3 linked regions of the Homo sapiens genome follow. The protein of the gene in region 3 purifies or fractionates together with the protein of the main gene of each other region. This does not show direct contact. Each region holds a gene or a part of one and is shown on either strand. Other genes may lie near its edges. The genes, in order: CLINT1, CLTCL1 and PICALM.

Region 1 (3,751 bases), on a different chromosome or scaffold from region 3:
AAAATTATTAAAGCAAATCACTTTTCAAACTTGAAGCTTCTTTCTTAAAGAGGTTTATTTCACTCTAAATGCAAAACATTTGCTAGTTTCAAAAGTACACTAATATAAACATATTCTGTTAAGGGCTTTATATGCAATACAATCCCTTAACCCTTAAGCCTCACAACAACATTCTAAGGTAGGTATCGTTGCATTTTCATTTTGTACCAGAGAAAACTAGGGCACTGTGAGGATAAGTAACTTCCCCAAGGTTATAAAGCTTGAACCCAGCTTTGCAGGTTCTGAAACCTGTGCTCCTTAGGCACTCTATTGCCTTCTTGGTAGCACAGAAAATATAAAAATATGGTCAAGCTCTAAGTTCTATCTGATGTATCAGACAAGGCACTGGAAATTACTTTGTTTCCTGGTGTCAAGAAAACAGTTTGCTATCTATACTTCCTGATTTTAGGTTAGGTGGGTGGCACAAATCAACTGTTTTTCTCACCACACTTATTGCATAATCATTAAAGCCCCAAAGGAAGAGGACTGCTTAAATTCTTAAACTTTATTTCCTGCTGGCCTAGAAGACCTTACTTAACCACTGTTATACCTGATATACTCATTTTAAAAGTTAAGGTTTTCCTTGTGCAAGTAAGAGACTAAAGTTATTTCAGTCTTAAAGGAAATCAACTACGTACTGGTCGTTTTACCTGCTTTTAAAAGCAGATCAACAGGATATAAACCTGGGTTGTTTTTTTCCTTAAGAGGACATTTCTTAATGACCTCTTAATTTAATCGAATGGAACAAGTAGCACACCAAAAATGATGTGTAGTGGAAAAAGAAACAGAAGAAAAAATCGCAAGAAGTCATATAGTGATCTACTTTCACTAGTGTTAGAAAAGCAAAGGATGAGTGTCTTCTTGAGTAACTTCAGGCTGACCACAATAGCCACTTGTTACACTACTACCACCCACTCCAACACTTCAGGTTCATTAGGAATTAAGAGGAGGCAAGGAAGATAAAAGACACACCCCAACCAGGTCTAAGGTCTCTCCGTACTACACCTTGAGGGACACAGGGAACCAGTGCATTGTGCCCCCCACCCCCAAACCTTCCCTGCTCCCCAGGAGGCAAAGCCCACGGCCTGGGGCCAAGACAGTCCTCCGGCCAGGGCAGTGACCCAGCGCCAAACAACCCGCCCCTTATGACCAAAGCGTCGGCACCCAGGGGTTGGAATAGGGGAAGGGACGGGAAGGCCTGGAAAGGAGAGAAGGGTGGCCAAGAGGATGTTTTTTTTTAAAACGAGGGAGGGTCCCTCCCCAGCCTCGCCAGCGGGGATGAGGCCCGGGGCCGGGAAGGAGCGGGCCGCCGCCATGATGGGGCTGGCAGAGCCAGGGGGCGTGACGTGGGCAACCCCTAGCCCAAGGCCAGCTCCTTCTCCCCCTCCCCCCTCCCCCACGTGGGCCTCGGCCACAACTGCCCCCCGATACTCACGCTTTGTCCACCAGCTCGCGCACCTTCCACATGTTCAACATCGTGCCCCGCGCGGGACGGTCCGCCGCCTCCCTCTCCTGCTCCCCACGGACCCCGGAACACTTCCGTACCGGGGCAGTTCCAGGCCGGGGTCACCGCCGCCCGCCGCCTCGAACTCCCCCAGTCAGCTCCTTCCTTTGCCACAGCAGCGGCGCCGCCGGTGACACGTCGAGACGCGGCAGCACAGGCGCTGCGTGGAGCGGAAGTGTCCGACTTTCCGCCGCTGCGCGCGGGGCACGCCGGGACTTGTAGTTTTCCCTGAGTGCCGAGCTCGGCCGGTTGAGTTGGGAGAGCTGAGAGGTTGAGTTGGGAGAGCTGAGAGGAGTTGGGATGGTTTCTCTTAAGCTTTCCCAGTCCCCGGCCCCAGACCTACCGAGCCAGAAATTTTGGAGGTGGGGCCCAGCGATCTGTGCTTTTACAAATCCTCTAGGTGATTCTGATCACGCTCAAGTTTCAGAACCACTGGTGCAGGGTCTAGTCACACTCAAACACTTTTCAAATGTAAGGCAGTATTACTATGTTATTAGTAATGATTATACAGAAGTATGATTGGCATACGCATTCCTCATCGACAGACACATCGCTGTATTTATTTCCCAATGCCCAAGTACACTTAGATCTCTAGGCCTTAGTTTCCACCCCTGTAAAATTGAAGAACTTGTATTCTAAATCCTTTTCCGCTCTAATTCTATGATACAATGTTTTATATTTAGACAACTACCTGAAATCCTTGTTAAATGCTTTACTATAAACCTCAGAAACTCAGTTCACACTCCACGGGAAACTAAAAAGCCAACATTATATATACACGCACACATACACATACATATGACAGGTTTGTGTTTTTTAAGGATAAATATGCACATTGCTTCCATTGCTTTGTTGCAATGGTTGTCATCACTTCCTTCTCTACTTACTCATTTTTATCAATGCTCATGTTAAAGCTACAAGCAACCTTAAGTTTCATTTGATCCATCTGCTGAAATTTTACAGTTCTTTTCATTCTACAAATATTTATTGAGCATCTTGTATGTTCCAGAAGTGGGGAATATAGTTAAAGACCCAGCTCTCTTGGAATTCAAACGTAATTGGAAGAAACATATAATAATCAAGGAAACATTTAAGATAATTGCATATAGTGTAATTGCTTAGCGGGTTCTTTCTGCCCACTTTACAGATAAAGTCAATTCACTGCGACCAAGTCATTGCAGTGAAGAGTTTGACATGAGGCTGGCCATGCCACTTGAGAGACAGAGTTATTACTCAAATCAATCTTCCTGAACATTTGGAAGCTAGAGTTTTTCAAAGATAGTTTGGTGAGCAGAGGGTTAGGGCATGGGTGCTGCTGATTGGTTAGGGATGCAATCAGAGGAGTATGGAAAATGGTTCTCCTTTGCTGAATCGGCTTCTTGATGGAGGGCCAGCAGAGGAGTGGCTGGTCTGGGTGGGGTCATCCGTTTGTCAGAAATGCAAAAGCCTGAAAAGACGTCTTAAAAGGCCAATCTTAGGTTCTACAATAGTTCATTACAGGCCAGGCACAGTGGCTCACGCCTGTTATCCCAGCATTTTGGGAGGCTGGGAGGCCAAGGCAGGAGGATCACTTGAGCCCAGGAGTTTGAGACCAGCCTGGGCAGCAAAGTGAGATCCCCCTGCCAGCCCAGTCTTTAAAAAAAAAAAAAAAAAAAAAAAAAAAGCCAGGCGTTGGGGCACACTCTTGTGAGGCCAGCTACTTAGGAGGTTGAAATGGAAGGATCCCTCGAAAGGATCAAATAAAGACTCCAATTCACAAAGAAGTGAAATTGATGGTTGCTAGTCATGAAGCTAGGTAACAATAATCCCAAATAAACAACCTCGGACCCTGGTCCCTCAAGTGAAACCACCTCTTTTCTATTTTCTTTTTCTTTTTCTTTTTTTTTTTTTTTGAGCTGGAGGTCTCACTCTGTTGCCCCAGCTGATCTGAAACTCCTGGGCTCAAGCAATCCTCCCACCTCAGTCTCTCAAGTAGCTGAGACTACAGGAAACCCTCTCCAAGTTGCATTCACTTAATTACCGAAAGCAGCTTTGAAAAAAGTTTCAGTAAGGCTTTCGGATTGAGGCCCCAAGAGAAAGAAGCAAGGTTGAAGGAATTGACAGGCAGAAAATTACAACAAGCAGAAATCCAAAGTTATCTCAGAGCTTTGTAATGGTAGGAGTACTTGGGCTGATATGAAGTGAGTTGGAGAGGTGGGTGGGGAGAGG
Region 2 (3,751 bases), on a different chromosome or scaffold from region 3:
GAAACACGCTGGGCGCGGTGGCTCACGCCTGTAATCCCAGCACTTTGGGAGGCCGAGGCAGGCGGATCACAAGGTCAGGAGATCGAGACCATCCTTGCTAACACGGTGAAACCCTGTCTCTACTAAAAATATAAAAAATTAGCTGGACGTGGTGGTGGGTGCCTGTAGTCCCAGCTACTCGGGAGGCTGAGGCAGGAGAATGGCGTGAACCCTGGAGGCAGAGGTTGCAGTGAGCCGAGATTGTGCCACTGCACTCCAGCCTGGGCAACAGAACAAGACTCCATCTTAAAAAAAAGAAAAAGAAAAAGAAAAAGAAACTTACCAAAGAGCCTTTCCTAGCCTAAAGAGGGAGCTCTGTAAATGAGGGCCTATGAAGAATGTTGACACTAAGGTCTCTTCCAGAACTTACATTCCAGGAGTAGGTTAGTTCAGGGATAGTTAACTACATTTATATAATGCTTTACAGAACTTCTCTCAAATTACACTATTACAGGTTTTCTTTATTTTAACACCAGTGCACAAGACTCTATATTTATCCCAGTTAAATGTCAACTAGCTGGATTCTGGCCTGTCAAGATATATCCGATTCTAATTTCATCACTGAACTTTGCTATCCCAGCTTTGTGGCATCCTTCTTCAGCCTGCCAAGAGTGATGGTCATCTCTCTGGCATGGAGGCCAGCAGCAGGCCTCAAGAGAAGTGGAAGAAAATGTGGGAGAAGAGCCTGCAAACTCAGTAAAGTCTCAGTGAAGAAGCAAAGGAAGGAAAAATCAGACAGATTGCAGAAAGATTCCCCCTTAGAGAAGGGGGTGACAGGGTGCCAGCAACTACTACCCTAGGGAATACTGATAAACAACATGTCAGATAGATGCAGTGATCTGTCTGTGATCCTATGGGAGGATCTTCAGTGTGTTAAGTTACAAAAGCAAAGGGCAGAAGCATATTTAAAGCAGGATTCTTTTGAACATTTTTGGAAGGATATGGTGGCTTCGTTTATAGTGGTTTCCCCTGGGGAGAGACAGACAGAGGCTGAACTGAAAGATTTTAATTCCCATCAGACTAGCCCCTGCAACAGAAATATCTCAGCAGAGAGGAACCTTGACTCAGATCCTCCTAGGACTTAATTCTTTCAACCCAACCAACTAAAAAAGCACTGGTTTGTGTAGCTTAGGCATTCTGAACATTTAAATGTTCTATGGTGAAGATCTGTTTTTCCAAAGAGTCCCCATTCAAATTCATTTACTCTTTGGTCACCCACAATGCCACAGCGGTAGGTACTCCCACAAGGCTCACCCTCGCAGACACCCTGGCTGAGGCAGGTTACTCTCCTTGCTTTGTAAATAAACAAGTCAGAAGGCAACTAACTGGCCAGTATGTATTTCCAATACCAGAAGCAGTGGTAGGCCAACAGGCAAAATTTAACAGTTTACATGGTATCTTAAAATGACATTTTACATGGGATGCAATAATTTTAGGATGCAATGAGCCAACTGCTGTCTTAGTACATCAAAAACCACTTCACAAAATGAGATAGCTACATAATGGCAACATAAACCAAATATGGACTGGATTACTATGGGTACGTGTCCCTTTTTGGAGCATGACCCCCAGAAGCCTCTCCAGACACACACGGGTGTGTGTGGATGGGAACTGTTTTCAGTTCAAGCTCAATCTACACCTTCACAGTTTTACTTTCCCCCCTCTTTCCTTAATGATTAATATTGACTAACATGTAGAAGGCTGTTTCACCTGGGCTGTGTGTAAGACTCACCTGGGAAGGAATACCAAAGCTCCATCTCCACCACTCAGAGCTTTGGATTTAACATCCAGCAGAAATATGTTTAAGGCTGCAGGCCATTCTCACATGCAGCCTAGGTAGAGAAGCACTGATTAAGATCTTGACCATCTTTCTCCTACAATTCTAATGCTCAAGGTCTCTACACCTGTTTCAAACACCGCCTCAGAGACACTTTGAGGGAACATGTTTACGTTTTCTGTGTATTGAGCTATGACACATTTCACAGCTTACAAACTTGGAGCTGCTTTTTTGATATAGCTGGGGGGAATTACTTAGGGCTCAAGAAAATTTTTATGTCACCAAACTATTCAGCCATTCCTCTTCTGAATCAAGATGTCTTAAGTGCTCAGCCCATCCTCAGATATTACAAACAGCAATACCCTTCCAACTCTCACATTTGAATATTTCTAAAAAGTTCAAATGGTAGCTCCCTGAGCTCACAATCCAGCAGAGAAAATGAACAGCTACAGTACCCTGGGAAGAGTGTCATTATAAGAGGAACCCCAAAGAGGCACAGAGGAAGAACTCCTAACTGACAAATCAGGGAGAGCTTCCAGAGACAGCGTCATTTCCACAGATACCAGAAGGCTCAGTAGGAGTCAGTGAGTAAAGAGGGGTGAGAGGAGAATGTGTTTTGGCAAGGACACAAAGGGAGCGGCAGCAGAGTTGAGCAGGTGTTGGGCTGGGAAGAACAGGAAAGAGCACGTGGGGATCAGTCTTTTCATGCCAGAGGAAACACGAAACCACTCCCTGAAGGACTTTAAGCAGATGCTCATCCTTGGAGATCATGTTGCCTGTGTGCTGGAGAATGGATCACAGGAGGGCAAGACTAGAAGTAGAAGGACAAAGCTAGCATGACCATCAAGGTGGGGAGGGATGGCATAGTTTAGGGAAACGGTAGTCATGATGACAGTGGCAGAACGATGCCAAAAGTAAACAGGAGAAAGGGACAACAGGATGGGGAAAACACATCCCAGGCTCCTGGCTGGACACTGGACAAGATACACATCTGGGGAGAAAGGGAACCCCATTTATGAACACTGTGTTTGAGGAACCTGCTGACCATTTCCTGGCCTTCTTCAGTAGGCAGCTGTCACAATGGCAGCAACAGCTCACAAGGACACAGTGCTTTACAGTAGTCCCTTCTTATCCGTGGTTTTTTTCACACTGTTACCTATAGTCTGAAAATATTAAATGTAAGACCCCAGAAATAAACAATTCATAAGTTTTAAATTGCATACCATTCTGCAGAGTGATGAAATCTTGCACCAGCCCACCCAGGACGTGAATTATCCCTCCTCTGCCCAGCATATCCACGCTGTAGACATTGCCAGCCCATTAGTCACTTAGTAGCGGTCAGTTACCAGGTTGACTGTTGCAGCATCACAGAGTTTGTGTTCAAGTAACCCTTAATTTACTTAATAATGGCCCCAAAGTCCAACAGTAGTGATGCTGGCATATTGTTATTATTGTTCTGTTTTATTATTAGTTATCATTGTTAATCTCTTACTGTGCTTAACATAAATTCAGCTTTATCATACATATGTATGCATAGGGAAAAAAAGTGTATAAAGGGTTCAGAACAATCTGCAGTTTCAGGCATCCTCTGGGGGTCTTAGAACATATTCCCCATGGGTAAATCGGGACTACTGTATTATGTAACAGTTATTGTTTAATGCTTTACATTTATTAACTCAAAAACCTCACAACTACCTTGTGAGATAAGAAGTATACCTTTTATCCTTATTTTATAGATGAAGATATAGAAGCACAAAAAAGCTACAAACATTGCCCTAAATCACACAGCCAGTAAGTGCCTGAGTCCACATTCAGTGCCTTCAGTTTGGCCTCAGTCTGTGCTCTTAACCAGGACCTGCTACTGCCTCACACACACACAGCAGTGAAACTGCGAAAACACTCGGATGGCTTGGGAACATCAAGCTTATGGGAATA
Region 3 (3,751 bases):
GTATTCCCTCCCCTATCCCCCCACCACCCCCCATACACACATTAAAATTCTTAACCATGGGTCAGCTTATATCGACCTTTTGGGTAAAAGACATTATTCCTTTGAAACTTCAGAAGCACGAGTTTGTTTTCTGAAAAACACATGCCATTGCATACCTTTTAACTTGACATATGACTGAAACTTTTGTCTTAACAATCCATTTTCTACAAAGACTGCCCTTATATTTATTAAAGATGACAAAACCAAAACCACTTCTTCTTTCATACATTTTCTGCTTTCATGTTCTGTCATTCTGAGATCTTTTTTTCTTTCCCTCTCTCTGTCTTCTTTTCCCCCAGCTGTCGGCAGCATCCAGCCCCTCCAGTCACAGTCCTCACAGAGCTTCAGGAAAGGACCCCTTTGCAGAGCTCTCTTTGGAGGATTTCTTATAAATCACTTTAGGTATTGCTACTTGTTTTGGGAGATGGGGACTTAAATACTTAAAAACAATTACCAAACATTAAACACAATTCACGCTTCTCTTTCATTTCTTTAAAGGACTCTAGGCTCCCTCTCCTCCTCCTCCTCTTCCTCTATTCTTTAGGTGCAGAATGAAAAGATAGGACATAAGGAAAAACAACTTTTGGAAAATATCTGTAACATAATTATTTAAAGTAATCTCATCCACTGCTCACAGTAAATGGATGAGATCGGATAAAGTTTGCTTTTTAATTAAGGGCAAGTGAATACTTAAGCCCTTTCGATTAGAAGGATTCTGCATATGATCCACACTGCCTCTGTTTGCTGGAAGACAGTGTAATTTGTTCTTCTTGATGCTCTAGCCCCCAGTTTAGATATACCTTCTAGATCTTTGGGAGTTTATAGTCTTCTGATTTGGCAAGTTTATTAGCACATCTACTTCAGTAATCTTTGGATGGGCAGTTTAAGGGAAATTGTGAGTGAAATATCTTTGAATGAACAGTAGTACCCTATTGAAAAATATTTTTATGGCTCTTTCAGGTTCTTATTTATGTTAATAAAAAGACTTAGTATAATATTACTGTTCCCTTTATTGTCTCTAATTGTATATCATTTGGAAATAATATTTCAAATTTTGCTTCCCAAATGAGATTTTGCTTGTGGTATTTGTGCTTATGGAGAGATTTTTCTGAACTTGTCATGAAAAAATAGGTCATTGATCTTCTTTCTTTTCCTCCTCCACATGCTATTCCTCTATTTTTAGCAGTTAAGTATTTGGCCTGGATGTGGTTGCTTATGCCTGTAATCCCAGCACCCTGGGAGGCTGATGCGGGAGGATCACTTGGGGCTAGTAGTTCAAGATCAGCCTGGGCAATACGGTGAGACCCTAGTCTCTACCCCCACCCAAAAATTACCCAGGTGTGGTGGCGACTGTCTGCAGTCCTAGCTATTCAGGAGGCTGAGGCAGGAGGGTTGCTTGAGCCCAGGAGTTCCAATGAGCTTTTTTTTTTTTTTTTTTTTTTTGAGATGGAGTTTCGCTCTTGTCTCCCAGGCTGGAGTGCAGTGGCACGATCTCAGCTCACTGCAACCTCCACCTCCTGGGTTCAAGCCATTCTCCTGCCTCAGCCTCCCGAGTAGCTAGGATTACAGGCGCCCGCCACCACGCCTGGCTAATTTTTGTATTTTTAGTAGAGACGGGGTTTCACCATATTGGCCAGGCCAGTCTCGAACTCTCGAACTCACCTCAGGTGATCTGCCCACCTCAGCCTCCCAGAGTGCTGGGATTACAGGTGTGAGCTATGGTGCCCAGCCATTGAGCTTTGATCATGCCACTGCAATCCAGCCTAGACAGCAGAGCAAGACTCTGTCTCAAAAACAACAACAAAAAACATTATTTGGAAGTCCCTATATGTGTCAAATATTGAGCTTTCTGGCACATAAGTTGATAATACTGACTTTGTTTTATAAACAGGGTTTGTGATAAGCATGTTGTGAACACTTCTGGGCCAGTTAAATGGTAAAGACCACAAAGCATTTTTATTTATGAGAAGACATCCTACAATACAATGAATTAACATACCCACTTTTTTTTTCCAGATACAGTTTATGTAACTTGATGGAAGAAAATGGAATTACTCCAAAAAGACAAGTGCTCAAGCAGCAAAATCCTTACTTCCAGCAAAATCCAAACTGCTGTCTCTTAAATCTCTTAAACTCTCTTCTTCCATTAGAATGCTACAAGTAACTCAGTGAAGGCCCATGAAGGAAATTGGGACTAGTTTATAGGAGAACGTATCAATACAGTTTATAAAGCCAAGAATTGCTATGATTTAAGACTAAGATCTGTCTTTTTGGTGACTAACCCTTCAATTCTTTCAACTCCTGTTAATACCCATAATCAGTAACCTATCAAGAAAAGCCCTTATTTGGAAAGTGTGAAATTTGTATTTGGAAAAGCTGCCTGGAGAGAAGAACTGTGTCCTTTACTGTATTTCAACAGGACTCTTTTGGGGGATCAAAATTAAAATTCCTAATTATGCATTATCTTTCTTTTCTCCAGTCCTCACAAATACAGAAACAATAACTGAAATTAACTTTTCTTTTTTTAAAAAAAATTATATTCAGTTTGCAGTAGACATTCCTTAAGTATTTGTATTTATTTATGATTATCAATTTTACATAACATTAATATTGTATCAGACCTCCTTATGAAAATGAGTATGGATGTGCACAGTATGTTTGATTTTTATCCACAAGAATGAATCTGATTCAGAATGCTTTTCTCAGCTGACATACAGAGCACTAAATATTTTAAGGCAAGTCCATAGGTCTGAATCTCTTAAGAATTCTCGGCCTCTGTGGGATTTAGGGAAGCATTATAAATGCATTAATCCTTATAGTCAATTCTGTGCCTAGGATTTTGCCAGGGAACAGTTCACTGACTAGGAAAAGCACTACATTTTAAATTCAGCATTAGTGCATTGGGAAGGATCTTTACTGCTTTGTGCTTGGCATGTCATTATTTTCCATTTGACATTAGGGCCTTTCCAAAATGAATGTGAGGAATTGCTTTCACTTCAAGACTTTCCTTCTTTTCACTAAAACTCTAGAAGGTGTTACAAGGGGGAGGGAAGGGGGGCAAAGTCCTTGAACATTTTCTTTGGCTCGTGCCATGTTATGATCATATACCTTTTAAATAAGGGGAAATAGTATCTTTAAAGTTAATGTCTAGCCAAGAGTTTAGTAAACGAAGAATTAAACTGCACTGTTGATCGGTGCTTTGTGTAAATACATCTTTAACATTTGGGTGGAGAGGGGCCTTAAGAAGGACAGTTCATTGTAGGAAAGCAATTCTGTACATGAGTTTAAGCATTCTTGTTGCATTGTCTCTGCAGATTCTATTTTTGTTTACAATATTAAAATGTATGTTAGCAAAATGGGTGGATTTTCAAATAAAATGCAGCTTCCACAAAAGTTTTGTTATGGTATTCTGGTCTGAGATGCATTTTCATTTTTCCTTTCTCTTTTTATTATCAATATTGTCATTTTTCCCTAATAAAATATACCCAGGTGATTATATTTGTTGATCTAATAACATGGAAGGTTTGTTTTATATGAATTTTCAAAAAGATGTCTCTTTACACTTTTTGTTACCTTGTAGACTCTTATTGATAAATGCAACTACTTATTAAAATTGTTCACTTTTTGTCTTTTGATCAGATGCCTTTAGTCAGGTAAGTTTAAGGGAAAATACGCAGTTTAATGTTTTGGTACATATAATTATGTCTGCCAA

What was found.
Region 1: the proteins of PICALM (region 3) and CLINT1 purify together in Homo sapiens (affinity purification with mass spectrometry; 3 studies listed by BioGRID and IntAct, with this or other methods). This does not show direct contact.
Region 2: the proteins of PICALM (region 3) and CLTCL1 purify together in Homo sapiens (affinity purification with mass spectrometry; 3 studies listed by BioGRID and IntAct, with this or other methods). This does not show direct contact.

The regions. Positions count from the first base shown.
Region 1 is NC_000005.10:157,857,456-157,861,206, forward strand, and holds the start of CLINT1 (clathrin interactor 1), read right to left. Parts: upstream 1,691-3,751; 5' UTR 1,516-1,690; coding exon 1,475-1,515; intron 1-1,474. UniProt on the Homo sapiens protein: Binds to membranes enriched in phosphatidylinositol 4,5-bisphosphate (PtdIns(4,5)P2). May have a role in transport via clathrin-coated vesicles from the trans-Golgi network to endosomes. Stimulates clathrin assembly.
Region 2 is NC_000022.11:19,284,988-19,288,738, forward strand, and holds part of CLTCL1 (clathrin heavy chain 2), read right to left. Parts: intron 1-3,751. UniProt on the Homo sapiens protein: Clathrin is the major protein of the polyhedral coat of coated pits and vesicles. Two different adapter protein complexes link the clathrin lattice either to the plasma membrane or to the trans-Golgi network.
Region 3 is NC_000011.10:85,957,365-85,961,115, reverse strand, and holds part of PICALM (phosphatidylinositol-binding clathrin assembly protein), read left to right. Parts: intron 1-338; coding exon of another isoform or gene 339-431; exon of another isoform or gene 432-441; intron 442-2,055; coding exon 2,056-2,070; 3' UTR 2,071-3,751. UniProt on the Homo sapiens protein: Cytoplasmic adapter protein that plays a critical role in clathrin-mediated endocytosis which is important in processes such as internalization of cell receptors, synaptic transmission or removal of apoptotic cells.